Linked DNA regions of Homo sapiens: regions 1, 3 and 4 are each linked to region 2. Evidence: fine-mapped expression QTL. A gene starts in region 2. Each other region holds a variant in brackets. All regions are shown on one strand. Distances are between the middles of the regions. Region 1 overlaps KAT2B (lysine acetyltransferase 2B). Region 2 holds the start of KAT2B (lysine acetyltransferase 2B). Region 3 overlaps KAT2B (lysine acetyltransferase 2B). Region 4 overlaps KAT2B (lysine acetyltransferase 2B).

What was found. PIP is the estimated chance that this variant, and not a neighbour inherited with it, causes the effect.
Region 1: its variant is the best candidate, but not a certain one, in a credible set for the expression of KAT2B in lymphoblastoid cells (TwinsUK, PIP 0.67).
Region 3: its variant is the best candidate, but not a certain one, in a credible set for the expression of KAT2B in blood mononuclear cells (TOPMed, PIP 0.78).
Region 4: its variant is the best candidate, but not a certain one, in a credible set for the expression of KAT2B in blood mononuclear cells (TOPMed, PIP 0.51).

The regions. Positions count from the first base shown.
Region 1 is chr3:20,075,513-20,083,742 of GRCh38, forward strand. All of the region lies in intron 2 of KAT2B (lysine acetyltransferase 2B), which reads left to right. Among named protein-coding and RNA genes, the nearest start is that of KAT2B, 39 kb to the left of the region's middle. The variant CT/C (reference allele first, on the strand shown) is at 3,690.
Region 2 is chr3:20,036,982-20,045,211 of GRCh38, forward strand. It overlaps KAT2B (lysine acetyltransferase 2B), which reads left to right and starts at 3,465. Exons shown (of 18, transcript NM_003884.5): 1 at 3,465-3,799. The coding sequence starts at 3,497. RefSeq lists silencers at 2,727-3,366, 3,537-3,666, 3,867-3,926 and enhancers at 3,090-4,060, 4,777-4,966, 6,328-6,497, 6,578-6,737.
Region 3 is chr3:20,119,948-20,124,858 of GRCh38, forward strand. KAT2B (lysine acetyltransferase 2B) reads left to right here. Exons shown (of 18, transcript NM_003884.5): 9 at 2,721-2,857. Among named protein-coding and RNA genes, the nearest start is that of MIR3135A, 15 kb to the right of the region's middle. The variant C/T (reference allele first, on the strand shown) is at 2,297.
Region 4 is chr3:20,137,177-20,145,406 of GRCh38, forward strand. It overlaps KAT2B (lysine acetyltransferase 2B), which reads left to right. Exons shown (of 18, transcript NM_003884.5): 13 at 3,045-3,188. MIR3135A (microRNA 3135a) reads left to right here and starts at 389; the gene lies at 389-465. RefSeq lists a silencer at 3,967-4,167. The variant T/C (reference allele first, on the strand shown) is at 4,664.

The sequences.
Region 1 (8,230 bases), 39 kb after region 2:
TGCAAGTCCCAGGTTATGACCTTTGCTTCTGACCTACCGGCTATAAATCAGGGTTCCCATCATACCCCTTCCTTGGTTTCAATAATTTGCTAGGATGGCTTACAGAACTCAAGGAAACACTTCAGTTTACTGGTTTAATATAAAGGATACACAGACAGCCAGATGAAGGGATGCACATTGCAAGGTTTGGGGAAGGGGAGTGAAGCTTCCTTGCCCTCTCCAGGTGCACGACCCCCCAGGCACCTCCACATGTTCAGCAACCTGGAAGCTTGAGCCTGTAATCCCAGCTACTTGGGAGACTGAGGCATGAGAATCGATTAAACCTGGGAGCAGAGGCTGCAGTGAGCCGAGATCTCACCACTGCAGCCTGGGCGACAGAGCGAGACTCCCATCTCAAAAAAAAAAAAAAAAATTTTTTTCATACGGCTTTATCTCTACACTTTCCCTCCCTTACCTTTCTTGTAGATTGATGGGTGGGGTTGAAGGTTCCAATCCTTTAATCTTCTAATAACCTGGTCTCTCTGGTGAGCAGCTTCATCCTGGGTTATCTGTGCACTATCTTAAGTCACCTCATTAGCATAAACTCAGGTATGATCGAAAGGGGCTCATGATGAACAATAAAAGATACTCCTCCTGCTCAGGAAATCCCAAGGGTTTTAAGAGCTTGTGACAGGAACTGGGACAAAGACCAAGTATATTTCATACTATACCACAAACATGTATTTTAATATATATGATCAGGAAAAGGTCTGGAAGGATGTATATTGAGTTGCTGACTGATTTTCTCAGGGTACGGGGGGTATAGGTATTTAAAAAATATTTCCCCCTACTCCTTCCTTTCTTCCTTGTTTCTTCTCTATTCTTTAGTCTGCTTTCTTAAAACTGAAATTACTGCACATTTTCAAGTGGTCTTGGAATTATTGTTGGAATGCCAGTGTTTATTTATTGGTCTTAGTATAACAGCTCTAGAAAACCTTTTTCTGAGATTACTCTTCCTTCCTCCCTCCTTTCCGTGCTTTTTGAAAAACTTTTTTTCTTAATGGAAAGTTTCAAACACCCGTAAAGGCAGAAGGGATAGTTGAATGAACTGCCTTGGACTCAGCACCCAGCTCTAATGATTATTTACATTTGCCAATTTTGTTGTATCTAACCCCCTGCTTTTATTTGCCAGAGTATTTTAGCAAGTTTCCTACATTTTTTCTTATCTTATTCATGCAGATATCTTCTTAATTGTTACCGACAAAGTACAAGTTGGGGTCTAGGGAATTCTGTTAGGAATTACGCAAGCCTGAATTCTCAAATACATTTCAGTTGGTATACATTGTTGTTCTGTTTTCACATACAGTAGTCACCATTCTGAGCATGGTTGATTTACTCACCAGTAATTGTACACACGAAATGAAATATTCTTGAATTTGTCAGAACAAAACATACTGGCTTATTGATTGAGATAGTATCAATTCTATTGATTAAATGTTGGGTTTCTTTTGCCTCAGCCATATATGTTCTTTGGAGCTGTGGTTTTGTGTAGTCTCCTGACAATTTCTTTCATCCCAGACATCTTTGGTCTACCATAATTTAATACTGTTCTGTGTTTCATGGACATAAAACACAGGAGTGAGATAGTCTGATCAAGTAGAAAGAACATTCAGTTGGGAACTAGGAAGTAATAATTCTAGCCTGTCTGGGTATGGTGGTTTGTGCCTGTAATGGCAGCTACTCAGGTCGCTGAGATGGGAGGATCCTTTGAGCCCAGGAGTTTGAGGCCAAAGTGAGCTGTGATGGGGCCACTGTGTGTGTAGCCTGGGAGACAGAGCAAAACCCCACCTCTAACAAAACAAAACCAAGAAAAGAATTCTAGCTTGGCCCTGCAGTTTACCAAGTTCCTTAACCTTTTTGCTGTTTAGTATCTCCATCCACAGAATGAAATGGTTGGTCTAGACCTATGCTGTACAATACGGTAGCCACTGGCCACATGAAATGTGTTTACTCTGAATTGAGATATACTGTAAGTGTAAAATACACACAGTTTTTGAAGACATCATAAGCAAAAACAATGCAGAATGTCTCAGTAATTATATTTTATATTGATTATATGTTGAAATGATAATATTTTGAATATGTTGGGTTAATGTATTATTAAAATTATTTCTACTGGAAAATTTAAAAATCACATTGTATTTCTATTGAATTGTGCTGGTTTAGAATATTCTAGTTCATTCTCTGAAATTATATTTGGGATTGGCACAATAATATTCAGTTTACAAAAATTTGACAAAGGGATCTAACAAAGTGCTTTAGTTGGTCCCAGCATTTCTCCTTATTTTAGTATTAATAAAGATTTTTCTTATTTTGGGACTGCTATTTAAAAAGCAGCTTGGGTCTTGCATGGTGGCTCACACCTGTAATCCTAGCATTTTGGGAGGCTGAGGCAGGTGGATTGTTTGAGCCCAGGAATTCGAGACCATCTTGGGCAACATGGCGAAACTCCACCTCTACAAAAAATACAAAAATCAGCTGGTGTGGTGGCATGTGCCTTTTAGTCCCAGCTACTCGGGAGACTAAGGTGGGAGGGAGGATGGCCTGAGCCTGGGAGGCAGAGGTTTCAGTGGGCCGAGATCGCACCACTTGCACTCCAGCCTGGGTGGCAGAGTGAGGCCCTGTCTCAAAAATAAATAAATAAATAAATAAATAAAAAGGCAGCCTGTTTTTACGAGCAGGAAAGTAGGAAACAAATCCTTGTGATCAAAACATAATTGGAATTTCTATTGTTATTTTGGAGTCCATTGTTCTGAACTGTTTCAGAATAGACTGATTATTAAATTTGTCTAGTAATAATATTTTAGTTTAGAGGTTTTTTGATTATTTTTCAGTGTTGTCACCTTTTTCTTTCTCTTCTGTCCAGGCTGATGTGCAGTGGTGCGATCTCAGCTTACTGCAACCTCCCCCTCTTGGGCTCAAGCGATCCTTTCACTTCAGCCTCTCGAGTAGCTGGGACCACAGACATGCAGCAACATGCCCAGCTAATTTTTTTTTTTTGTATCTTTGGTAGAGACGGATTTTGTTATATTGCCTGGGCTGGTCTCAAACTCCTGAGGTCAAGCGATCTGCCCACCTCGGCCTCCCGAAGTGCTGGGATTACAGCTACCGCACCCTTCATCATCTTTTTCTGATATATGTGTATATATATGTATATATATATGTACACATTCAGCAGTGGGAACTGACTGTTTTTTGTCACTATAGATTCCTTGCTTTTCTGCTTGTTTACAGTAGGGAATTTCTTTTCTGTTAACTTTTAAAATTTTGAGTTAGGCAGACCCCTCACCCTACAACCAGAATTGATTCAAAGAGACTCCCAGAGCTTTTTTTTTTTTTTTGAGAAGGAGTCTCACTCTGTTGCCCAGGATGGAGTGCAGTGGCGCGATCTCCACGATCTCAGCTCACTGCAACTTCCGCCTCCCAGGTTCAAGCAATTCTCCTGCCTCAGCTTCCCAGGTAGCTGGGATTACAGGCTTATACCACCACACCCAGCTAATTTTTATAATTATTATTATTATTATTTTTTAGTAGAGAGTGGATTTTGCCAAGTTAGCCACGCTGGTCTCAAACTCCTGATCTCAGGTGATCCACCCGCCTCGGCCTCTCAAAGTGCTGGGATTACAGGCATGAGCCACCACACCTGGCCT[CT/C]TTTTTTTTTTTTTTTTTTTGCCACAGAGTCTGGCTCTGTCACCCAGGCTGGAGTGCAATGGTGCAATCTCGGCTCACTGCAACTTCTGCCTCCCAGGTTCAAGCTATTCTCCTGCTTCAGCCTCCCAAGTAGCTGGGATTACAGGCACCCACCACCATGCCCGGCTAATTTTTGTGTTTTTAGTAGAGACGGGTTTTATCATGTTGACCAAGCTGGTCTCAAACTCCTGACCTCAGGTAATCTGCCCGCTTCAGCCTCCCCAAATGCTGGGATTACAGGCGTGAGCCACCGCTTCTGGCCTGAGACTCCCAGAGATTTTTAAGGAAGGTCAAGAGTTAGCTTTAACAATCACACTAGAGCTTACTTCTTGAGTATTATGAAGAAAATACCAGTATTTTTCTCATGGATATTTCAAGTATTTAAATCATTTAGGCAGATCATTTGACTCAACACATTTTCTTTGATCATACGACATTTGCATAGACTTGTACCATATAATTGCCCCCTCAGTTCCCATTTATACATGTACTGTGCAGATGCCAAAGGACGTAAACATGGGGCCCAGCTAGCACAATGACACAGCCTCCTGAATTGAGCCAGCATATTCCTCTTGGCTGGATGTCCACTGCTGGCTAATGCAGCCTTTCAGATGCCGGTTTCAGAGTTTTCAGGAGCTGTGGGTCGGGCACAGCAGGAGTTAAGGGGATAATACTGGTAATATTTTCTCTGCTCATTTGGTATAAGTTATGTCTCCCTGACGTCCTCTGGTCATGAAATCCTGTTTGATACTCCCTTCAAGTTCCTGCCTCTAGCACTGGCTGAATTTAGGCTTTTCCTCATTATTCCTTGCCTGTGTCTGCTGCAGCTTCTGGAGTTCTTATTTCCATTCCTGCATACCTGGCTTTCCCATAAAGTGATGATACAATGTGATCCCATTCTCCTGCTTAACCCCTCTGAGCTTCTCATTATCCTCAGAGTGAAGGGTGATCTGTAGTTGAGCAAGCAGGTTCAGTTCATTGAGGCCTCTTTATTTTCAAAGCTTTTCTCCAATTATCTTCATTGCATTTTGGCCATCAGGCTGCTCCATGTTCTCCAAAGGTTCTTTGAACTTTCTCCCACCTCTGCCTTAGATCTGGAAGCTCACACCACCTTCAATGCCTTTCCTTCATTTTCTGCCAGGGAATTCTGCTTATCCTCCAAGGCTTGACTGCAGAACTCTGTAGAGAGAATAAAGGCCTTCTTAGAGCTCTGTGGCAATGTTCCTTCTTATATAACTATAATTATATACCAATCTGTACTGAACTGTGATTAAGAGTTGACTTTTTCTCTAGTTTGTAATATATTTAGTTCGTTGTGCATAATTGTGCTTATTCTTTTGTTGGTAAATAGTCATTGAATTCAATAATGGTAAAATGAGGGCTGGTTGCATATATTTGCAGAGGAGCTTTCAAAGTTTATAATCTATACCTGCTGTGTCCAACACAGTAGCCACTAGCCATGTGTGGCTATTGAACACTTGCAATTTCACTAGTTTGAATTGTGCTGTAAGCGTGAAATGCACACAGGTTTTGAAGACTTAGTACAAGAAGAGGAATGTAAATAGTAACTTTTAATATTGCATACGTATTGAAAGAATAATACTTTGGTATATATTAGGTTAAATAAAATATATTATTTAATGAATTTCACCTGCTTCTTTTGTCTTTTTAAACACAGCTACTGGAATACTTAAATTTACATATGTGGCTTGCATTATATTTCTACTGGACTGCTCTCATCTAATGGGCTCTTACTCTTAGGCTTCTCTTTTTTTTCATTCCAGATCTGAGATTACAGAAAATGAAACCACTTTTAAATGATAAGCCTTTTGCACATTAGTCAATTTGACAGATTTCATTGTAGTCATTAATTTTACCTCTTCTAGCCTCGATGCCAAATTCCCATGAACAAAAAATGTATTTGAGCAGCCTTCAAATCCTATTGTGTTATTTGCTTCTGGTCCAGAGGAGCAGGGACATGTTAGCTGCCTGCCCAGCTGCTGCCTGTTCACACTGCAGGGCATGTGAGGACTGGCTGACTGTCTTCACGAGAAGTGCAGGCCAATGATACACGGAGCCAGAGGTTAGTGAGGGTCACGGCACACAGTGACAGTGTGCTTCCTGTTCTCAGCAAGGTTGACAGCTGCACCGTGATTCTTGGCAGCAGTCACACGGCGGGTCACTCTCTGGCACCCTGGGTGTTTGCAAGTCTGACACAGCACTGAGAGGTGCCAAGGTATACCCTTCTGGAGTGATCTAAAGAAGGCAAAGCCTCCCCTCGTCCCCTCACTTGCACCTTCTGTCTGCTTTCTTGTGCCCTTCACACAAAGTGGACACTGGGGGAACTGTGGCCCACCAAAAGGAATAAACTTTGCCACAGCTCAAGGGTTGGTCAATCTTGGGTAATTAGTGTATATCAATGCTTTGTATCAGGCTCTTGGAAGACTATTTAAAGTAAAAGCAGGATTCTTTAATGATCAAATTCAGGTGGAGGAAAGATTGTAAAAACACTTTTAATTTGCAAATAATTAAAAATTTACATAAAAGTCATGAGAATAATAACGAAGAATATCCCATAAATCCTTTCCCTAGATTTACCTATTAGTAACATTTTATTTTATTTGCTGTCATTGGCTCATATATATATATGTATAAATGTATATAGAGAGTCTCATATATATATATATATGAGTCTCTACGTATAAATTTGTTTTTCTGGAACTATATGAGAATAAGTTACTTATATATCATAGCCCTTCCTCCCCTAAATATTTCAATATACAGTTCCTAATAATAAGGTTTTCTTTTTTTGAAATGGAGACCCACTCTGTTGCTCAGGCTGGAGTGCAATGGTGCAGTCTTGGCTTACTGCAGCCTCCACCTCCTGGGTTCAAATGATTCTCATGCCTCAGCCTCCCAAGTAGCTGGGATTACAGATGCCTGCCACCATGCCCAGCTAATTTTTTTATTTTTAGTAGAGATGGGGTTTCATCATGTTGGCCAGGCTGGTCTCGAACTACTGACCTCAAATGATCCGCCCTCCTCAGCCTCCCAGAGTGTTGGGATTACAGGCTTGAGCCACTGCACCCGGCCACGGTTTTCTCTTAATAACCTCAGTTCAATTACCAACTTTAGTAAATTTAACATTAATATAATACCTTTATCTAATCTACTGTTTGTATTCTAATTTTATCTGTTGACCCAAAAATGTTCTTTATAACATATTTTCCTTTCCATTAAGCCTCCACTCAAGAATCACATATCTGTTTAGTTGTCATGTCTCTTTAGTTTTCTTTAATCTGGAGTTCCTCAGCATTTTATTTTATTTGTTGACTTTTATAACATTGACATTTTGATGGAGGAATGTTTTAAATTTTAAAAACAAACTCTTTAAAGAGCTAGGAAAAATACATTTTTTGTTATTTTTTGTTTATGTAGGAAAAACCTTTGCAAGCAAAACCTTAAAGAACTGCCAACGTAGATATGGCTTTCTAAAAAGATTAACATTTTTCTACAACCAAACCAAATAAACCAAAAATCCCTCCCCACCAAATACGTAAGCATTTGCAATGAGTATGGCAGACTAAAGGTAGTACATAAGGTTTATTCAAGGTGGTAAGAAAAAGACTAACATCTTAAAAACCAAGCAAAGGAACTCAAATTGGCAGGTACACAGGAGATCAAATACAAACAGCCAGTAGTATGAAAAACAAACAACTCCCTGGGCCTTCCGTTGAATGCAGATCAAAACAGTAGGGGGTGCTTATTAATTTTCAAAAGATTGGTTAAATTACCGAGGATGGTTCTCCACTGTAGGCAGAGCACAGGAAAAAGGAATAGTCTCTCACTACTGATACAGTGTACATTGATGCACATCTTGATGAGGGAGGTTAAATTAGGGAGCGATACATCAAAGTTTTACATAGCAGCGACTTCATATCTTGAGTTTTGTGGCAGGTTGACTGCTATAGATTTGTGCATTGTAGTTTATAGATTTTTATTTTATTTTTTAGTTTTTAATAATATGCTCCTAGACTCATAAATAATAGAGGCCTATCTCTTTAAGAAAACATACTTTTAGATAATTGAAGGGAGCCTATTTGCATCAAAAAGTCTTCTTAATAAAAGGTTAAGAGAAGGGTTTCTTTTAATAATGAATGACTCTTTTTGGTTTAATATGAATTGATTGTCAGTATAGTAAATAGTTTAGCTTTGCAGTTAGAGTGAGGTTCACCTGGGTGTTGACATGGGTTGGGATTAATTAGGAGACTGGTAAATCTAGAGATAAGTTAAACAAGTCTAATTCTGGTCAGCATCCCCAAAGAGCCAGGAGTAGTCTCTGGATCTGGTAGAGATGGGGTTGTTTAAGGAAAGTGGTATTTTAGGAAGACTACCCTGGCAGCAGAGAGAACAGTCTAGGGGGCTATTTTATTATAGTAGGTTTGACATTCCAATGGAAGAAAGGTAGGATGGGGAAATGCAGTGTCTCTGAGAGAGAATG
Region 2 (8,230 bases):
TGTTCAGTAATTATAGCCACTTCCCTCAGAGGAAGGTTGGCCCAAGGAGCCCCACTTAGGCATTGACATGTCTCTTTATTTTACACTCATATCCAACTGCTGTTTCTAAAAGCAGGTGTCTGGGAAGAATGTCAGTCATGGTCCATGTACTGGGCCAAACCTGCACTTTGACCACTTGATCTGTACCCTTACAGTCTGTGCCTTTACTGGGGATAATTTCAATCCATCTGTGGGATTCAGGGTTACTGGTACATTACAGAAGCTGTATAGCCTTGGTAGGAAGGAATATGGCAAGAAACTCTGCTAGATGATATAACAATAGATGGCCACAAAACTTGCCTTTTTTAGGAAGGCATCTCTGAGCAAGGAATACCAGATGAATAGGGTTAGCCATGCTGTTTGGTGGAGGGTATCCACATAGTACAGCAAATGCAAAGGCCCTGAGGTAGGAAAGCATTTCCTGAGTTTGGCTGAAGTATACTGCAGCACCAGGGAGAATGGGAAGGGGTGGACCTTATCAACTTCTTGTTATATAATCTCGTGTTCTGAAGTTGAAATTTTATTTTATTGCTATGTACCTTTTTAAATCTTTCCCTTACTTTTGAATTTCCCATGCATTTATTGAACATATACAAAATTGTGCTTATATGTCAATGTGAGTTTGTTTTTAACATAAATGGTATTATGCTGCACTGAGATTTATTCAACAGTGTTTCTTAGAGATCTATGTTATTATATTTTTATAAAGGTCATTGTGTATAACAGGTATAAAATATTCTGTTGTGTGAATATACCACAAGTAACCTCCAGTGGTCAGCCTGCCTCTACCATGCCCACTCTCCAAGCTTTTATTTTCTGAATGTAGCTTCTTTACCTCAGTAAGTGGTAAATACTTTGTAAATGAAAACATTGCCTTTTATTTTCTTGGTAGTTATTTCTTAAAAGTACTGTGTGCACAGAAAGAGCACACTGAATGCTTACAACAACCTAATTATGGAAAAGCAATAAGCCTCCTGAATCCTTTGCCCTTGAAATTTCCTTGCCTGGTGCTCATAACACACTTTGAATAGGTCTTGAAACCACGGGCCTTCAGCCTAAGGCAGTATGTCATCTGGGTACTCTGAGCAGGGAAATAATGAAAAATAATGTTCAGTTAATGGCACAAGCCATTCGCCACTCAGACAGTGATGGTTTTCAGAGTGGATTGAAAGGAGATTGGCTACTTCTGCTTCAAAACATCCTGGAAATTGTCTGCCTCCTGAATTCTGAGGGACGCTTGGGAGGAGGAGTTGATAGGTGACTTAATGTTAAATCTGGGTTCCCTCCCCCAATTGTCACTGTGAAAATTTTCAAACATACAGAAAAGTTGAAAGAATTGCGCACTGTGCCCATTACCTAGACTCTATTATATGGACCCCTATTTGCTTTATCATATCTCTGTTCATCCACCCTTTACCCATGCATGGAGGCATCCATACATCTTATTTTTGATGTATCTCAAAGTACAAAGAGCACCATTAGAGTTCAATGCTTGTGATTTTTCTTTTTTTAAAAATTTTTGAGGCAACATTTATATCCAGTGAAATGTACAGATCTCAAGTGGATCATTCCATCAGTTTGACAAATGCCTGCAAGGTGGAACCCAAGCTCTTATTAGTATCTGTTAAATCCATGTTAGAGGTTGATCAGAGAAGCACAGCCTTTAAGACTCTCACCCTGCTTTGCGGAGAATGGCAAAAATCTGCGAAACATCTCAGCAGAGCCAGGAGAGAGTAACACTGGTAACGTGAAGCACGTCAAGCTAAGAAAGGAAGCACTGAAATTAATTGTCCTGAATGGAACCTGATAAGAATCTGCCATTTCATCCCCTCAAGACTGGACTCAAGTTGGGAGAGAATATTGCCTTTTGCCCTGTCTAAGCTAATATCACTGTTTAGATCTACAAACTCCCCCACCTCCCAATGTTTATATATTAACCTGCATTACAAGTCAAAATAACACAGAGAATCTGGAAAAAGAAGAAGGGGAATGTTTCCCACGAAAAGCACACCCCTTAAAGCGTCTGGCCTGAGAGCTATACAGCATGCATAAAATCTGATAATAAGCACATTATGACCCACATTGCATATAACAAAAAGTAGGGCACTTCTGAAGGGTCCTGAGAAAAAGCCCTGGGCTTTTAAAACCTGCTTAAGAAGGCGATCAACGGTACACCACTTTCAAACGCAGCACTGACTTGTATGCTCCACAGTCATCAACAGTGAAAACAACAGTTTTCAACAAGAGTTGGAAACACTGAGTTGAGGGTTTTTTTTTTCTTTTTAAAGTTTGAGGCCAAAATCGATATTTATTCTTTTGAATTATGCTTATATCTTTTTCCTGGTTAATACGCACGCGGTGGCACAATTTTGAAAACTACGTAACGTTATAGAACCACCACCCAGAAACGAATCCTGTTAACAAACTTTTTGTATTCAAACTTTTTCCACTGCATAGTTTTTGACAATGCTTTTTAGACAATCTTTCTTTTAGCAACCAGCACTTTCAAACAAAAATTACAGAGAATAGTAAGTTTTTTTCCCCTCCTCCGGCAGATTTGACCCAGAAATTGCTATGGGAAGAAAGTGTTAATTATATTAAAAAATAGTTTGACAGAAAGTATTTAAAAAGAGAAAGGGAGAACATCACGTCTTTATTTTGGTGAATTAGCAACAAAGAAAAAGATTAGCATGGACGGGTACTTTTCAAAAATATATTTTTTTTCCTCTGGCTCCCGCTAGGGTGGAGGAAGTTGTCTCTCTGTCAGAGACAGGGTGGAAGAGAGTGAAAGGACAAATGATTGAGAGGCTGCCCCCTCCCACTGGTGCAGGCGTGCGGGGGTCGGATGGGGGGCCGCGGAGGGGGGAGGTGGCCAGCAGGTGCCTGGGCTCCAGGCCCCTACCCCCACCCTCGTCCCCACCCTCACCCACACCCAGGGATTGGCCTCGCCCCCTGGCGGGCGAGCGGTAGGTGTCGAAGCACTGGGGTGGGGGGTGCAAACCCCGCGGGCAGCGGAAAAGAGGCCGTGGGGGGCCTCCCAGCGCTGGCAGACACCGTGAGGCTGGCAGCCGCCGGCACGCACACCTAGTCCGCAGTCCCGAGGAACATGTCCGCAGCCAGGGCGCGGAGCAGAGTCCCGGGCAGGAGAACCAAGGGAGGGCGTGTGCTGTGGCGGCGGCGGCAGCGGCAGCGGAGCCGCTAGTCCCCTCCCTCCTGGGGGAGCAGCTGCCGCCGCTGCCGCCGCCGCCACCACCATCAGCGCGCGGGGCCCGGCCAGAGCGAGCCGGGCGAGCGGCGCGCTAGGGGGAGGGCGGGGGCGGGGAGGGGGGTGGGCGAAGGGGGCGGGAGGGCGTGGGGGGAGGGTCTCGCTCTCCCGACTACCAGAGCCCGAGAGGGAGACCCTGGCGGCGGCGGCGGCGCCTGACACTCGGCGCCTCCTGCCGTGCTCCGGGGCGGCATGTCCGAGGCTGGCGGGGCCGGGCCGGGCGGCTGCGGGGCAGGAGCCGGGGCAGGGGCCGGGCCCGGGGCGCTGCCCCCGCAGCCTGCGGCGCTTCCGCCCGCGCCCCCGCAGGGCTCCCCCTGCGCCGCTGCCGCCGGGGGCTCGGGCGCCTGCGGTCCGGCGACGGCAGTGGCTGCAGCGGGCACGGCCGAAGGACCGGGAGGCGGTGGCTCGGCCCGAATCGCCGTGAAGAAAGCGCAACTACGCTCCGCTCCGCGGGCCAAGAAACTGGAGAAACTCGGAGTGTACTCCGCCTGCAAGGTACGCGCTCGCCGCTCTCGGACCGCGGATGGGTGCTAGGGGCCCAGCCCGCGGGACCCCCCTCCCCCTCCCGCTTCCACCTCCGCCTCCCGCCTCCTGCCTCTCGCCTCCCGCCTGGGGCCGCTGCACCGCGGAAGTGCTCTTGTCGCCCGCGCCCAATTAGCTTCTTCTTGGATAAGAGTCCTGCTGGGTTTGAAGAAGGGGGATCACTAAGACGGAGAGCCCTTCATTCCTTCCGCTTGAAAGGAGTAGCTTCGGCATCCGAGCTCCCGGGCTACCTTGGGGTTTTGTTGCTCTGTAGGAGCTCGCTGGAGTCACTTTCCCGGGAGTGGAGCGGTGCTCTCCATGTGGCGGGTGACCCAGGGGCAAGGAAAAATCTTTTGGGGGACTGAGTGGTCCCTTCTGCAATCGATCCCTTCCTGTGTCCCACTGGGAGGAACTGGGTGCAAGGAGTGGGGGTGGAGAAGACTCCCGGACTCCTGGCGCTTTGGGAAAGCGAAGGGGAGGAAAGCGCGGGGTGGGAAGGTGGGCAGAGTCCGAGGCGAGGGTCTTGTGGTGCCTGGCGCCCTCGGCTGGGGGCGGAGGCACTGCCGCGCGCGGTGACAGCCCTGTCATTATTGTATTATTACTTGTTTAGTTAAAACGCTGTCCCAGCTGCTCGAGGTGTAAACAGGATTTGGCAAAGTGACAGCCCAGCGCGGCGGGCGCTACTGCTCAGTTTGAGGACACCCATTTCTTGCTACCCACTCTCCATGCCAGTTTAGGCACCCTGTCACCTCCAGCTGCAGATCCAGATGTGGAGGCTGTGTTCCCGAGGTGGGAGGATTGCCCGAGGCCGCGGGGCAGGCTGGCCCTGCGCTGTCAGCAGCGGCTTTGTTTTGACAGGGTGACAGCTGAGGGGGGCGGGGACTTGGCCTTGTCAGCTCCTGCGGCCTGTGGCTGAGGCAGGGAAGAGACACACTCACACACACTCACACCTCCCTGTATTCTTCCTGCCTGCTGTAAAGAGGGTCAAGTTCCCAGATTCCAGATTCCCGATTGTCACAACCAAGCTGCAGTGACCACTTCTGAATTTTGACATAACTATAATTTATTCTACTAGAACATCTAGGTTATACTCTTCTTGGTACTTGCAGGAGCTTCTCAGTCACAATGGAATGTCTATGCTTGCTCTTTTTCCACACCATATGCTCAGGTTTATGTTAAGCACCTCTGTATCCTACACTGGTTCAATAAATATTTGTTGAGTGAATGTAGGATCTAGCCCAGTGCTCCTCAAACTTTAATGTGCATGGGAATCTCCTGGGGAAGCTGGTTAAAATGCTGATTATGAATCAGGTGGTCTGAGGTGGAAGCTGAGAGTTTGCATTTCTGACAAACTCCCAAGTGATGCTATGCTAGTCCACAGACCACATTCCAATTCAGACCTGGACAATATATTATTTGTCCCCTTTGATTTTAGCAGAAAAGACAGAAACAAATAATAATGCTATGTGGTTATTTCTGAAGAAGGAATGCAAAAAAGATGAAGTGGGGAGTGTGCTTCTAAGAAAGGTGCAAGCCCAGGAGTTGATCATGAAGGGCATTAGACGAATGAGAACAGGACACCGACTGTAGTAGGCAGAAGGGCGAGCTATGTACAGAATTAAGAACAAGGTCATGGGTACAGGGCATACTGCTTGGGTGATGACTACACCAAAATCTCACAAATCACCATTAAAGAACTTATGTAATCAAACACCACCTGTTCCACAAAAACCTATGAAAAAAAAGAGCAAGGTCAATTACTTGGTGGCCTTGGCGTTTCGCAGCCAAAGTGGGCTCATGCAGGAACTGTCTCAACTCAGTGTTTCTGTTCTGGCTTTATTTTAAAATTTATTTATTGGGTTCTCATCACCAGCACCTCTTAAAGACTTCCTGCTGCCTGCTGTAGCTTTAATATCTGAAAACTTTCCTGAAGTTTTGGTTTTGTCTAAAACCATGAGCATATGTGGCCTGCATTGATATTTTTGATCTTTTCAAATTTCCATGGGTGAGATGTAGCACCACTTCCAAGTGGGATTTGAGTGTTTCCTGGTCACTTTCATGACCCAACAAGAGAAAGAGAAAATTTATTTTAACGTCTTTTTTTTTTTTTGAGACAGGGTCTCACTCTGCCACGTAGGCTGGAGTGCAGTGGCATGATCGTAGCTCACTGCAGACTCAACCTCCCTGGGCTCAGGTGATCCTCCTACATCAGCCTCTTGAGTAGCTGGGACTACAGGCATGCGCCAGTACACTATTATTATTATTATTTGTATTCTTTGTAGAGATAGGGTTTCACCTTGTTGCCCAGGCTGTTCTCAAACTCCTGAGCCCAAGCAATTTGCCCGCCTTGCTTCCCAAAGTGCTGAGATTATAGGCATGGGCCACCATGCCTGGCTGAAAGTGTTCATTTTTATGTATCCATTCATTCAGTAAATATTTAGAGGGTTACCAACTGGGTGTCAGGCATTGGGCTAGGTGCTGGGCCTATGACACACAGAATTTGTCCTTCAGGAGTTACTTATTGTGTGTGTGCACAAGTGCATGTGTGTGTATGCATGTGTTGGGGGCCTAGGGATGAGGGCAGTGAACCAAAATTACAGAGAAGTTCAGAAAAACTACTTTCTTGGAGTAGTTGCGGACCCAGAGCAGGACAGTTCATAGACTGGGGCACTGGTAGGGTGGGATTGGCTTCCTGGAGGAAGTGTCAGTGGCTGCTAAGAACTCTTGGCAGGGCAGAGTGGGGTGGGGTGAAGCTTCTTGTAGTGGAGAAACTGAAAGCAGTTGTGGAAGCTTGGAGGTGGGCCAACTGAGCCAGACCTTTGTTGCCTAGGGCCACCGGCTGGGGTGCGTGGCCAAGAGGGCACTGAGGAGTGCAGGAATCTTAACCTGGAGAGTGACATTATCTCAGATTTGCTTTTTTTAAAAAAAAAAAAAATTTAACTGGACTTGATTGGGTACGAGGGAGTGTAAGAGAGCAAAATCTGTGGTTCTCTCTCAGCTTGTTTCTGCACTTAATATGAGCAAGCCCAAAAGGACAGATTGCTCTACCTTTGCCACAGGCCCCTTGGCAAGTTAGATTAGAGAGATTAGAGAATGAGGAGGGATCTAGAAAGAGATAAGGTAGTTCACTGGGGGGCTTTTGAAAGAAAAACAGGTCCCAGGCCTGATATAAATCTGGCCTTTAAACTTCACAAACGAAACCAAAAAAGAAGGGAGCTAAGTCAGCCAGGGTGACGTGCCACACCCCAGAGAATAGAAAAAGAAAAAAAAAAAAGAAAAAAGAAAAGAAACAAACAAACTTGTTTCGCAGGATCCAGATCTTTGAACTGTGTCCTGGTAAAGGTTGCTTCAGAGTCATTTTGGTTCTGTGTTCATTAAAAATGTAGATCTAGGCCAGGCGCAGTGGCTCAGACCTGTAATCCCAGCACTTTGGGAGGCCGAGGCGGGAGGATCACTTGAGTCCAGGAATTTGAGGCCATCCTGGGCAATATAGTGAGACTTCGTCTCTACAAAAAATAAAAAATTAACCAGGCGTGGTGGCAGAGGTTGCAGTGAGCTGTGATTGCACCGCTGTACTCCAGCCTGGGTGACAGAGCAAGATTCTCCCTAAAAAAAAAAATAAATAAATAAATAAAATAAAGTAGATCTGACCATGTTATACCCACACTTCAGGCCCTTTAATTTCTCTTTATTGTGGTCCACAAGGCCCTGCATGGCCTGGCTACTGCTATCTGTGGCTCCTTATCGAGGGTTCAGGCACATGGTTTCCTTTCACCTAGTCGGGGGTGAGGTGGGGTGAGGGGCTTTGCACATGCTGTTCACTGGGACTGGAAGCTCTTCTTTCCACATTTTAAAATTAACTCCCAACCCTTCCTATAGAACTCAGATTCCTTGCCTTTCCTTTACCCCCCTGAGCAGCCTTCCCATTAGAAATTATCCAAATTCATCTGTACTCTTCCTGGTGCTTATATTATGATTTTTATGATTTGTATGATTATTTGATGTGCATTTAGAATCTTTGAATAGATTCTTAGCCATGCGGTTATTGACTAAGCGAATGAACCAGAGAAGAGAAAATGGAAGAAATGATTAGCTGTGATGTTAGCAGTTGTGGAATTTTAACTTAATCACTTCTTGACAACTAAGTAGAGATTTGTCATATAGGACAGTTCTAGGTGTCCCACAGATATTGATAGGATTGGGTTATTTATTTATTTATTTTTTTGAGACAGGGTCTCGCTCTGTCACCCTGGCAGGAGTACAGTGGCGTGATCTTGGCTCACTGCAACCTGTACCTCCCAGGCTCAAGTGATCCTTCCACCTTAGCCTCCTGAGTAGCTGAGACCACAGGCATGCACCACCATACTTGGCTAATTTTTGTATTTTTTTTGGTAGAGATGGGGT
Region 3 (4,911 bases), 81 kb after region 2:
GAGAGTTGGCTGATTTCAGCTAGTCTCACTCAATCTTGGCTGGGCTTGGTTGCAAGTTACCCATTGATTATAATCTCTGTTTTGGGCTTGGCTTGGCTAGAGCACTTAAGCTGAAGCAACTCTGCTTCACATATTTCTCATAATTTTCCTGGGACTATTGGGCTACCCGGAACATGTCCTTCTTGTGATGAGAGAGGGCAGGAAGAAATACACAGTCTCTTGAAGCCTAGGCTTGGAACTTGTAAACCATCACTTCTGCCACATTCTTTTTTTTTTTCCTTTTCTTTTCTTTTTATTTGAGACAGAGTCTCACACTGTCACCCTGGCTGGAGTGCAGTGGTGTGATCTCAGCTCACTGCAACCTCTGCCTCCTGGGTTTAAGTGACTCTCCTGCCTCAGTCTCCTGAGTAGCTGGGATTACAGGTGCCCACCATCATGCCCTGCTAATTTTTGTATTTTTGGTGGAGATGGGTTTTTGCCATATTGGTCAGGCTGGTCTCAAACTCCTGACCTCAGGTAATCTACCTGTCTCGGCCTCCCAAAGTGCTGGGATTATAGGTGTGAGCCACCATACCCTGCTGACTTCTGCCTCATTCTGTCGTCCAAAGCAAGTCACGTAGTTGAACTCAGAGTTGAGAGGTGGAGAAGTGGAAAAAGGTAGTCTATTCCTTTCGTAGGAATAACTGCAAAGTCACATAGCAAAGAGTGTAGATACCAGGAGGGTAAAGAATTTGGCCATTAATGTAATCTACCACATGGGCAAAAATATCTCTTGAGCCTAGAAGCATTTCACAGTTAGAGAATGTTTTGAAGGTTGCATTTCTGTCCACAGACTTGACGTCAGACAAATCTTGGATGTGACCAAATTTTTAAATAAAAGAAGTACCATGAAAGAGGGAAAGAAGAGGACCTTATAATATAAGAAGTGCCATATATTTAGCATATGCCACCATTCCCTTTCACTTCCAAGGGAGATATCACTAATTCATGCAGAAACTCTTTACCAGTGAGCTTGGATTCAGCCTCAGACTTTTTAAAAAAAATCATAAACACCATTAGCAGTCTAACAAGCAGAGGGCATATCAAGTACAAACCCCAGCTACGAAATAAATAGTTTTCAGCATTACTCTTAGGGAATCATGGAATTTGAGGACTTATTGGTCAGATGTCTGAAAATATTGTTACTTGTCTCCAAAAACAAACAACAAAAAATTGTAAAAAAAAGAACTCGACAAAAGTGATTTAGTAAATAATATGTAATACTTCTGGAAGAATCGTCTACAGTCAAGTTACTTTATACTGTTCTGCTCCTTTTCAACTAGAGATAGTGAGAATGCTATGTGGAGAATGTTATATTGAGATAGCAGTGGGATTCACATGTGAGGAAATAAATTAGATCTAGACATCTTAAAAATTCAAAAAATTTACTTGTAAAAATAAATACATGTTATGTCTGGAAAAAACTGGAAAAACCAAACATGAGAATAGAAAGGAGAAAAAAACTACCATGCAATCTCATGAGGAAAGCGGAAGAAAGTTCTCTCTGCCTTTGCATGGCTCTCCTATTGTGTGGAATGGTGAGATTGCATCTACTTGATAGGCTAGTGGTCCTGCTCACTTTGTGAGGCATCATTTTAGGGCAAAAAAGCATTGTAAAAGATAAAGTGTGTCATTTTATAATAGAAAATTAAATCCATAAATTTGTTTATTAAAAATAATTTATGGTATATTTCAAATATATAGCTATATATACATAATATATATGCATACATACACATATGCATATGTGTGTGTGTGTGTGTGTGTGTGTGTGTGTGTGTGTGTGTGTGTGTGTGTATAGCCAAGCCCAGCACAGAGATTCCAATCAGTGGGTAGACTCATGAACAAGCCTGCCAAGATTGAATGAGATGAGCTGAAATCAGCCACCCATCAGGAAACATACGAAATGAATGAGCTATGATAGTAAGTTATTATGGTTTAAGACTCATTTGGGGTTGGTTTATTACATAGCAATAACTAACCAATAAAGCCCAAAGCCTAATGCAAACTGATTTCCGTACATATATGGTGGGGTGCCGGTGGGGGCGGGGTGGAATTAACATGACTACAAGGAGAAATAATCAAATCAACCAACGGTTGAGGCTTTAAACAAACAACTGAGTAATTCATAGGTCAAACAGACAAAAATATCAGTAAGGCTCTTACTGATATCCATACAACATGATCTGTAAGCTGAAGCTAATGGAGTTATAGAGATCAAAATATGAAAATACACATTCTTTCCAAGAAGACACTG[C/T]ACATTTACAAAAGATTGGTCTTATTTTAGGTCATAAGGTAAAAATTTCAATCCATTTTGACGTTTTGGTGTCATATGGACCATGTTCTCTGACCTTGAAGAGACTATATTAGAGAGTACTAACAAACAATAGCTAGAATCACCCCTTTGCATTTGCAGATGAAGGAACATGTGCCTTAATATTTCATGTATCTAGTTAAAAATCATCATAGAAAGTAGAAAATATTCACAATGAATTGGGTTGGCAGTTATTGTGAGCTCACAATGGCTCTCTTTCCTGTCTTCCTTTGTCACCCCTTCCCCTGGTGGTAAAGATAGAGTTGACCTCCATGCCCATCAATGCTGTTAGAAAATTAGTTGGCGTGTATTATTTGTTTTGTGTTTAGAACCACCCATTGTTTGCCTTTTATTTTGATCATCATAGGAGAAAAGAGGAAAATGACTGATTCTCATGTTCTGGAGGAGGCCAAGAAACCCCGAGTTATGGGGGATATTCCGATGGAATTAATCAACGAGGTTATGTCTACCATCACGGACCCTGCAGCAATGCTTGGACCAGAGGTCAGCAGGGTAAACCTGGGCAGCCAGCTGGTAGACCTCTTCTGCTCTCCTGGCCACTCCAGCTGTCAGAAGTGGGGATGCTAATGCTGAGAGTTAACATGTTATGCTACCCTGGTTTGCATTTAACCTGGTGGTCAGTGTGGAGAGGGCAGGAACAACTGATCAAGAGGTAATTCCCCTTGATGAATATCACATCACAGGTCCACTTACTAATAATCTCACAGTTGAAGGCATCATTCCCAGCTTTTTATCTTGAAAAATTTCAAGCCCTCATAAATGTTGCAGAAATTCTGTAATAAAAATCCATAGACTCTTTACTGAGATTCAGCAGTTAACATTATGCCACATTTGCTACCTCTCTTTCTCTCTGCGCCTCCCCATATGCTCTTTTTCTTTCTCTCCCCACTCCCCATGAACCATTTGGAACCATTTCAGAATTAAAAACACATGTCATAATACTTCACCCCTAACTATTTTTGCATGTACTGTATCTCATAAGGAAGCTATTCTCTTACATAACCACAATGCAGTCATTACTCTTAGAAAATTTAGCCTGGTTACAATATTTTCTAATACAGGGTTGGTGAATTACAGCCTGCAAGCCAAATCTGCTCCACTGGCTGTTTTTTTCAAATAAAGTTTTATTGAAACATATTGTTTGCAGCTGTCTTTGCATTACAACAGTAAATTTGAATAATTGAGACAGGGAATGTGTGGCTTGCAAAGTATGAAATATTTATTATCTGGCTTTTCACTGAAAAGTTTGCTGACCTCTGGCCTAATATAAAACCGTATTTAAATTTCCCATATAGCCAGATGATGTCAGTTATAACCTTTGTTGTTGTTGAAGGATCAGTTAGGGATTGTGCATTGCATTTAATTCTTATCTCTTCATTTGTTTAGTCTCCTTTAAAACAACTCCCCAGCCTTGTTTTGGTCTTTTGCAGCACTGCCATTGGTGAAGAGTCTTGGTCGCTAGTTTTGTATAAGGTCCCTCTTTTTGGATTTGTTGATTGTTTACTAAGGATTAGATTCAAGTAAGGCATTTTTGGTAAAAATGCTGCTGTCATCTCATTGCCTTGCATCTGAGGGCATGCAAGGCAATGACATTTCTTAAGACATACCTGTCTTAAGACATTTCTGACAGCTTCCAGGAAATGAAGAAATGGCTTGGAGATTATATTACAGTGTTAATTTTCAATTTGTCATGTTTCTTTAAATATTTATTTTATGACATTGAGGATACTTCAGAGAACCAGAATGTTGTAATAGAAAAATCTCTTCCTAAAATTGATCTTTCCATTTCCTCCTAGATGTCCAGTCTGTGAGGGCTTAAGACTATAGTTTTTTAGGGATTTAGTAACATTACAGATTAGCTGAGTTTAGGTTTTTTTCAGCTATAAAATGGGGATTTGTACTAGTCTATTGCATTGCTACAAAGAAATACCTGAGACTGGGTAATTTATTTTTTTAAAAAAGAGCTTTAATTGGCTCACAGTTCCACAGACTGTACAAGAATGGCATCAGCATCTGCTCAGCTTCTGGGGAGGCCTCAGGGAACTTATACTCATGGTGCAGGGTGAAGTGGGAGCAGGCACATCACATGGTGAGAGAGGGAACAAGAGAGTGAGGAGGAGGAGCCAGACCCCTTTAAACCACCAAATCTCATATGAACTAACTGAGCAATAACTCATTCATCAACAAGGGGATGGTGCTAGGCCATTCATGAGGGGTCTGCCCTGATGATCCAACACTTCCCACTAGGCCCCACCTCCAACATTGGAGATTGCATTTCAGCATGAGATTTGGAGGGGTCACACATTCAAACTACATCAGGATGCAGTCACATGTTTGAAAATATTTTGGATATATTAATATTTAGTAGTGTACTAGAGCTGGCTTGTACTGGAATGCACAAGAAAATTGTTAAATTTTCAGGAGTTTTGTGAGCTGGTTGTTCCATATGTTGGTAGCTTGAAGTTGACTAGCATGGCACCTGGTTACCTGGATAGCCAGTTCTGGACTAATGAGATGAAGTGTCACCAGTTAGGGCC
Region 4 (8,230 bases), 100 kb after region 2:
AAGCCTTATGTCAAAAATAAGCTTCAGCCTGGATTAGAGAGTGTCACTAGCACATAGTAAGTATTGAATAACTATTTGTTGAGAGAATGAATGAATGTCACCTGTCAGTGAGGTATAATATTGCATCCTAACATTCTAAAATATGGTTTCTAATAAGAAATTCCCAGTCCTGGAATTTGGTGGGTAGCATTCTCTGTGAATGAGAAAAACAGATTCAGTTTCTGGAAGGCCTCCATTTATGACAGCAGAAAGGAAATCCTGGAGTTTATAAAAACCTGCAAACAGTCCTGATTCTACAGCACATAGTGGGCTAGGAGCTTGGCTGTCATCTTTGCAGTTCCTTCCTTTCTCCGTTCCTCCCTTCCTTTTTTTTTTTTGAGACAGGGTCTCACTTTGGTGCCTAGGCTGAGACTGCAGTGGTGCAATCTCAGTTCACTGCAGCCTTGACCTCCTGGGCTCAGGTGATTCTCCCACCTCAGCCTCCCAAGTAGCTGTGACTACACCCAGCTAATTTTTTGTATTTTTAGTAGAGACAGGGTTTTGTCGTGTTACCCAGGCTGGTCTCGAGCTCCTGGACTCAAGCAATCCACCCACCTCGGCCTCCCTAAGTGCTGGGATTATAGGCGTGAGCCACCTCACCAGGCCTCTGTCCTAGCAGTTTCTTATCAGAAGTTTTCAGCTCAGGCCAGGTGCAGTGGCTTATGCCTGTAATCCTAGTACTTTGGGAGGCCAGGGCAGGAGGATTGCTGTGCTCAGGAGTTTGAAACAGCCTGGGCAACATAGTGAGAACTTGTCTCTCTTTAAATAAGTCTTAAAATAAGTTTTCAGCTCAGCTTTTTGAGGACTATTCTTTGACTGCATATTATTTTTAATAGTGATTTATAATTCCTAAACATTTTCATTTACTTTTCTGACTATAAAAGTAATGTGTAATCATTGTAGAAAATGTAATAAAGCAAAAGAAGGAAAGAAAAATGGCTTGTAATTCTGTCACCCCAAGAAATTTACTGTTAATGCTTTGATTTTTTTATTTTAAAATTTTTTCTGTTATTTTTCCTCTCAGCTCATACCTATGCTGTTAATGCTTTGACATAAATCTTTTTAGTATTTTTTCTGTGTGTATATAAACATAAAAGTTGGTTCATACTGTGTATATAATAATTTTGGTGGTTTCCTAGGATTTTGTTGTAGAAATAGAAAATATTTAACCAATACATTTTTGACTAGGTGTTTCTTGTAGGTAATGTGCATGTGTATGGGTGTGTGTTTGTGTACATGTTTTGCCCTCATTGATGGTAATTTGCTTAGAATAAATCAAGGTTTTTGTAATGTGTTGCTAAATATTTTAAAAATTTCCATTTTTGTCAGCAGTGTATAAGGGGGTCAGGAAAGGAGTTGGTAACTGAAAAAAAATTTACCACTTTTCCAGATAATAAATTGTGTATGTTTGAATTTATTTATGTGAAGTTTGATTTATTTTTCCATGTTTATCAATTCTTTGTATTTGTTCCTTTTTTGGATTGCTAATTCATTTTCTTTTGTCCCTTTTTCTATAAAAATGTTTAGTTGTACATTGATTTGTGAGAACTATTAGTATATAACTATATTAACCTTGGATAATATTTGTTTCAACATTGCTTATGGCTTTTTCTTTAAATCTTCAGAATGTTAAAGATGTTATTACATAAAATCTATTGACTTGTTTTGGTTTGGATTTTGTTTGTTTGTTTGTTTTGAGACAGGGTCTTACACTGTCACCAAGGCTGGAGTGCTGTGGCATGATCATAGCTCACTGCAGCCTCAACCTCCTGGGCTCAGGCGATCCTCCTGCCTCAGCTACCTGTGTAATTGTGACCTCAGGTGCATGCCACCATGCCCAGCAATTTTTTTTTTTTAATCATTTGTAGAGATGGTGAGGGGTTGGGAGAGAATCTTGCTATGTTGCCTGGGCTGGTCTTGAACTCTTGGACTCAAGTGATCCTCCTGCCTCAGTCTCCCAAAGTGCTGAGATTATAGGCATGAGCCACTGCACCCAGCCAGACTTCTTTTTTTTTAAAAATGTGTTCTTATGTAATTAGAAAGCTTTTTGTGCTCTGAAGACAGATAAATAATCTCCTATTTATTATCTTCTCATTGTTTGAGATGCATTTTAACTTTTATGGTAAAACTCACTGAGAACTTAATTGGATTGTTTCACTGAGGTCTTGAGCATCAGCTTTCCTCAGCTGTAACTGTAGTGCAAAGCATAAGATCTCAGCTATGGTTCTTAAATGACTTGTCTGTAGTCCTCTTTGAGGATGATGGCAATAATTACTTGGAAAATAAGTTTTTGTTGAAAGATGAGGCAGTGAACTGCTGGCGATGGTGCTGAAGTTCAAGAAATTTTCTGCAAATAACTGAAATAGATACTTAAGGCAAATTATGTTTATATTATAAATATATTATTTATAATTTTGAATATATACTCTGAAGCAGTCTGTTATTATGGCTTAAAGTGTGTAAATGAGTATATTCCAAAGCATTAATGTCATTGAAACAACCACACATTGTGACTGTCTGGAATTTTTTTGCCTGCAAAGAAAGGATTTCATTTCCTCAGAAACATTAAGTTTCTAATCACTTTATTTTTTTGACCATCTTTTCTTTGATAATTTAGATCAATGTTAGTTATTGATTTGCTGAGAATCCTGGGGACCCCCTCACCACTTTTGGAGAAATTTGCAACGGTCATATTTAATTATGTAATTCAGTACAAAATTAAACCTAATTTTTACTTAACACCTGTTTCTGTTTTAAACTTTTTAATATTTCTTGCATTTTATTAGGGCCATTTAAAAAATGTTGTCTTGCTTCCTATTTACACAGTTAGATTTCTGGTGTTTTTGAACTTCATGGGTGGTTTTAAGCTAATCCTCTTCAGAATAGTACAATGAGAACTTCAAAGAAGCTTGTCTTGATTCCTCACACAGTGCCTGGAACATAGTTAGCACTCAGTAGATATTTGGTGTATGGTGTTCATATGAATGAATTTACTTGCTTTTCAGGGTTTCTCCAAAGAAATTAAAATACCTAAAACCAAATATGTTGGCTATATCAAGGATTATGAAGGAGCCACTTTAATGGGATGTGAGCTAAATCCACGGATCCCGTACACAGAATTTTCTGTCATCATTAAAAAGCAGAAGGAGGTAAGCAGGTGGTTGACTCCCTTACCTTCTGTACAGGCCAGTCTTAGCTGGGGTGGGTTGCATTTCCTTGGGTGCTGCGTGTATGTGTTTACTGGATAGCAAACTCTCGGTTTGCTGTGGGTTATCTAGATTTCTTCTCTCTCTCTTTTTTGACACAGAGTCTCTCTGTCACCTAGACTGGAGTGCAGTGGCACTATCTCACTGTAACCTCTGCCTCCTGGGCCCAAGCAATCCTCGTACCTCAGCCTCCCGAGTAGCTAAGATTACAGGTGTGTGCTACCATGCCCAGCCAATTTTTCTTATTTTTAGTGGAGACAGCGTTTCACCATGTTGGCCAGGCTGGTCTCGAACTCCTGACCTCAAGTGATCCACCTGCCTCGGCCTCCCAAATTGTTGGGATTACAGGTGTGAGCCATCGCTCCTGGCCATAGATTTCTTTAAAGGTATCCTTGATCTGTTTCCTTTCTCGGTTACCATTTCTACAAGAGTCATTACTTTTTAAATTTGTGTAAAATACAAAATATGTAAAATACAAAATATGTAAAATATGGTGACATATTTTAACTTCACCTTCAAGCCATTTTGCATTCTGGCCTCAATTATTGTTCCCACTCTTATCTCTTTACTTTCATCTCCAAATACTCCAAGTGCATCTATTTACTATTCTCCAAAGTGTCTTTGTCCATTAGCCACCCCGTTCACTCAGCACACACATAAATCAAACCGTTTCAGGGTGTGTTCCAGTTCCTCTTCTGAACTTCTCTAGCACCAGTTTGATCCACCTATTTGAATTTCAGTTATTCATCTTACATAGACATTTACCTTACTGTATATTAATCTCTGCTTTTACTTGGCAAGTTCTGAAGGCTTATCCTTCTAGGTATTAAGTGATTTGTTATCTGGTATTGAGGTGACTTTTTTTATGCATATGAATGAAAAGAGAAGCAGTAAAAGGGAAAGGTTGACAGAGTTGAATACATAATAATTTCAAATTTTCTAAGGCAGAAAAAAAAAACACTCATGATGAAAAGAACAGAACTGGGGAGTACACAAAGGCCATTTATTGAAAGAAAGAACTTTGTGTGTTAAGTCCAGGATCACCTCCTGGCTGCTCCCAGTTGGGTGGAGTTTGCAGCTGTGTCATCCCACGTCAATTCCACTTGATACTTCTGTTATTCGTTTAGTGCACTTTTCTCTAACAAATAGCTTAGGAGGACATCTGTCTTATACCCATCTTTGTTTTCTGGTTTCTACTAACCTCCTTAATCCCAGTTCTTAGTTTTTTGTTAGGCATTATCTACCTAACAGCCCTAAAGCTTTTTACACAGTGTCTGGTGCATAGTAGTTACTCATTAAGTATTTTTCTTTTACTTAAAGTGGCTCAGTCTTGTTCTTGTGTTTCCTGGGGAAGTGAGCAAAGGCTTTTTTTTTTTTTTGGAAAATACAAACAACTTTTGTTGCTTTTTGTTCAAAGA[T/C]GTCAGCCTAAGAGAGAATTCCAAGTAGGCACTTGGAAGAGTTAATAAAGCACAGCGGGCTCCTCTCTCTCCCTGTCTCTCTGAAGAGCTGGCTTTCCTCATTGTTCTCTCTGGAGCTTAATGAGCAGGTCTGGATTCAGCAGCACATCGTTCCGCATTAGAGGCTGCTGGCCAACTAAAGCCATCACCCCGCTGTCAGCTGCTCTTTCCTCATTCCTCCTCCCAGCAGCACTAATTCATCCCCACGGTGTTAGCTGAGAGCAGGATTCCCTTGGCAGAGTCTGCAAATTCACATTGTACATGATCTGTTGGCCCTTCAAACCTACAGGGGAACGCCAGAAGCGCAGAGCTATTTTAGATGGCTAACAAAGCAGTCAACTTTTTAGAAGCCAAGGCTCCCTCCCCATTCTTTTTTCTCCTCTCCTCCCCCTCTGCCTCCAGCCTTCCCTCACACATTCCGTTGAATGGGTGATGGAGGTTTGGAGATCTTAACCTAGTTTTTAAAAAAGCTATCTGAAGTCACTTCAATAAAAATATATTTGGATTCATGTAGTATTTTTTTCCACAGAATTCAGTTGATTTTTTATAAGTATTATTTGTTCCAACTGTGAAAAACCCCTCAAGGAAGGTAGGGATTCATGGTGGCAGCAAAGAAACAGTGAATATTCTGAGGCATTTCCTAGCCCCTAAAAGTATACAGGAGCAGAATAAGTTGTAGTTGTCATTAGTAGAGAGAGAGAGAGAAAACTAGTATAGTTGGACAGGTGGACCAAGAGTGGAGAGTTAAGTGCTACTTTGTGAGTGTTGACTCCAAGGGAAAGGTAGGATCTGTAGGGGCCTCATGTCACCTGACAGGGCTTTGTGGGACATTTGTTTTGAACTGGGCAGCCTGGTGATGAAATCTGCATTAGCAGAGGCTCAGAGTCCAATGGAAACAGATTTGTGGGCACATGAACAGGTAGGACCATTGTTATGTCGGTGATGAAGGCACTATTTGAGAAAGCGCGAATAGGCTATGAGCAAGCATAATTGGGTATCTATGTGCCTGTGTGTGTGTGTGTGTGTACGTACATATACCTATGTACATGTATGTGTGGATAGGCTGGGTGGTGGGTGGGGGGATAAGTTCTTAAATCTTAATCTACATGTGACAATACAAGGAATTGGGGTTGGAGAAGCCAAAGTAAGGATGGGGAGACTCAATGCAATTTTTTTATAAGGAGACATGCAAAGACTGGGTGATGTATTGGAGATGGGGAACTACTCCACTGAAATTTTCTGCTTTGGGAGACCCTAAAACTGACAGCAGTAGATCATAGGACTGAGCTGTGGACTTCAGGAGAAGAAGATGAGGACATACTTTCATTTGGAAGGCATTGATTTTATCGTCATGGTAGGGAGTTGAAGATATTTTCTAGGGAGGTGAAGTTAATACACTAGAACACAATGAAAATATCTCCTTTCTGAGATGCAAGTCAAAACCACAATGTGATACTATCTCACACCAGTCAGAATGGCTATTATTAAGAAGTTAAAAAAATAACAGATGTTGGCAAAGCTGTGGAGAAAAGGGAATGCTTATACACTCTTGGTGGGAATGCAAATTAGTTCAGCCCCTGTGGAAAGCCGTTTGGAGATTTCTCAAAGAATTAAAAATAGAATTACCATTCCACACAGAAATCCTATTACTGAGCATATACCCGAAGGAAAATAAATTGTTCTTACAAAAAGATACATGTGCTTTTATGTTCATTGCAGCGCTATTCACAATAACAAAGACATGAAATCAATTCAGGTGCCCATCAAAGGTAGATTGGATAAAGAAAATGTAGTACATATACACCATGGAATATTATGCAGCCATAAAAAAGAACAAAATCATGTCCTTTGCAACAGTGTGGGTTTAGCTGGGGCCATTATCCTAAGCAGATTAACACAGGAACAGAAAACAAAATACTGCATGTTTTCTGTTATAAGTGGGAGCTGAACATTGGGGATATATGCTCACAAAGATGGGAACAGTAGACACTGGAGTTTCCAAAAGAGGCAAGAGAGGGAGAGGAGTAAGGGTTGAAAAACTACCTGTCAGGTACTGTGCTCACTACTTGGGCAGTGAGATCATTAGAAGCCCAAACCTCAGCATCACACAGTATACCCATAATACCCCCTGTATCTAAAATGAAAACAATAAATTAAAAAAGATCTCTTCTCCATACTGATTACTAGAGGTACAGAGAGCTTAGGACGCCTCCCATTCCCATTAACAGTCACTTCTCAGGAGCCCACAATCTTTAAGGTGCTACATGAGGTGAGTGGAAGCCATCTGTAGGTCATTGCATTTGAGAGTCCCTTGGTGAAGAGAAGGAAACTTTCAAATTGAAACAGTCTTCAGCATATTCTCTGAAGGTGTCGATTTAAGAGATTGCCCTTGGGATTCTTTTTTTTTTTTTTTTTTTTTTTTTTTTTTGAGACAGCGTCTCACTCTGTCACCCAGGCTGGAGTGCAGTGGCATGATCTTGGCTCACTGCAAGCTCTGCCTCCTGGGTTCGCACCATTCTCCTTCCTCAGCCTCCCGAGTAGCTGGGACTACAGGCACCCGCCACCATGCCCAGCTAATTTTTTGTAATTTTTAGTAGAGAAGGGGTTTCACTGTGTTAGCCAGGATGGTCTCGATCTCCTGACCTCGTGATCTGCCCACCTCGGCCTCCCAAAGTGCTGGGATTACAGGCGTGAGCCACCAAGCCCAGCCAGGTTTCTTTTTTCTTTTTTTTTTTTAAGATTTGGACTTATAATAAATAAATGGACTTAAAATAAATAAATGGAAAGCACCCATCTAGATCAGCCTTGTCAAAAGTAGCAGTCACTAGCCACATGTGGCTACTGAGGACTTGATATGTGGTTAGTCAAAATTAAGGCATGCTGTAAGTATAAAATCCTCTGATTTTCATTTCTTTCTTTTTCTTTTTTTTTTTTTAAGAGGAAGTCTCGCTCTGTCACCCAGACTGGAGTGCAATGGCACAACCTTGGTTCACTGCAACCTCCACCTCCCAGGTTCAAGCAATTCTCCTGTCCCAGCCTCCTGTGTAACTGGGATTACAGGCGTGCACTACCATGCCCAGCCCATTTTTTGTATTTTTAGTAGAAATGGGGTTTCACCGTGTTGGCCAGGCTGGTCTCGAGCTCCTCACCTCAAGTGATCCACCCACCTCGGCCTCCCAAAGTGCTGGGATTACAGGTGTGAGCCACTGCACCTGGCCAATCCTCTGATTTTCAAGAGTTCATATGAATAAAGCAATGTAAAATATCTTACACTTTTTTCCAATTGTATGTTACAATGACATTTTAGATATAATGGGTTAAATGAAATACATTATTAAAATCAATTTCACCTGTTTCTTTTTGCCTTTTAAAAATGCGGCTAGTAGAAAAATTTAAATTACATGCGTGGCTTGTATTATGTCTCTATTGGACAGCACTGATCTAGATTTACTAGGAATATACTTTTACTAGTCCCATTCATTTTATGAAGTTATTTGTTTAACTGTTAGGATTACATATTCATGCTGC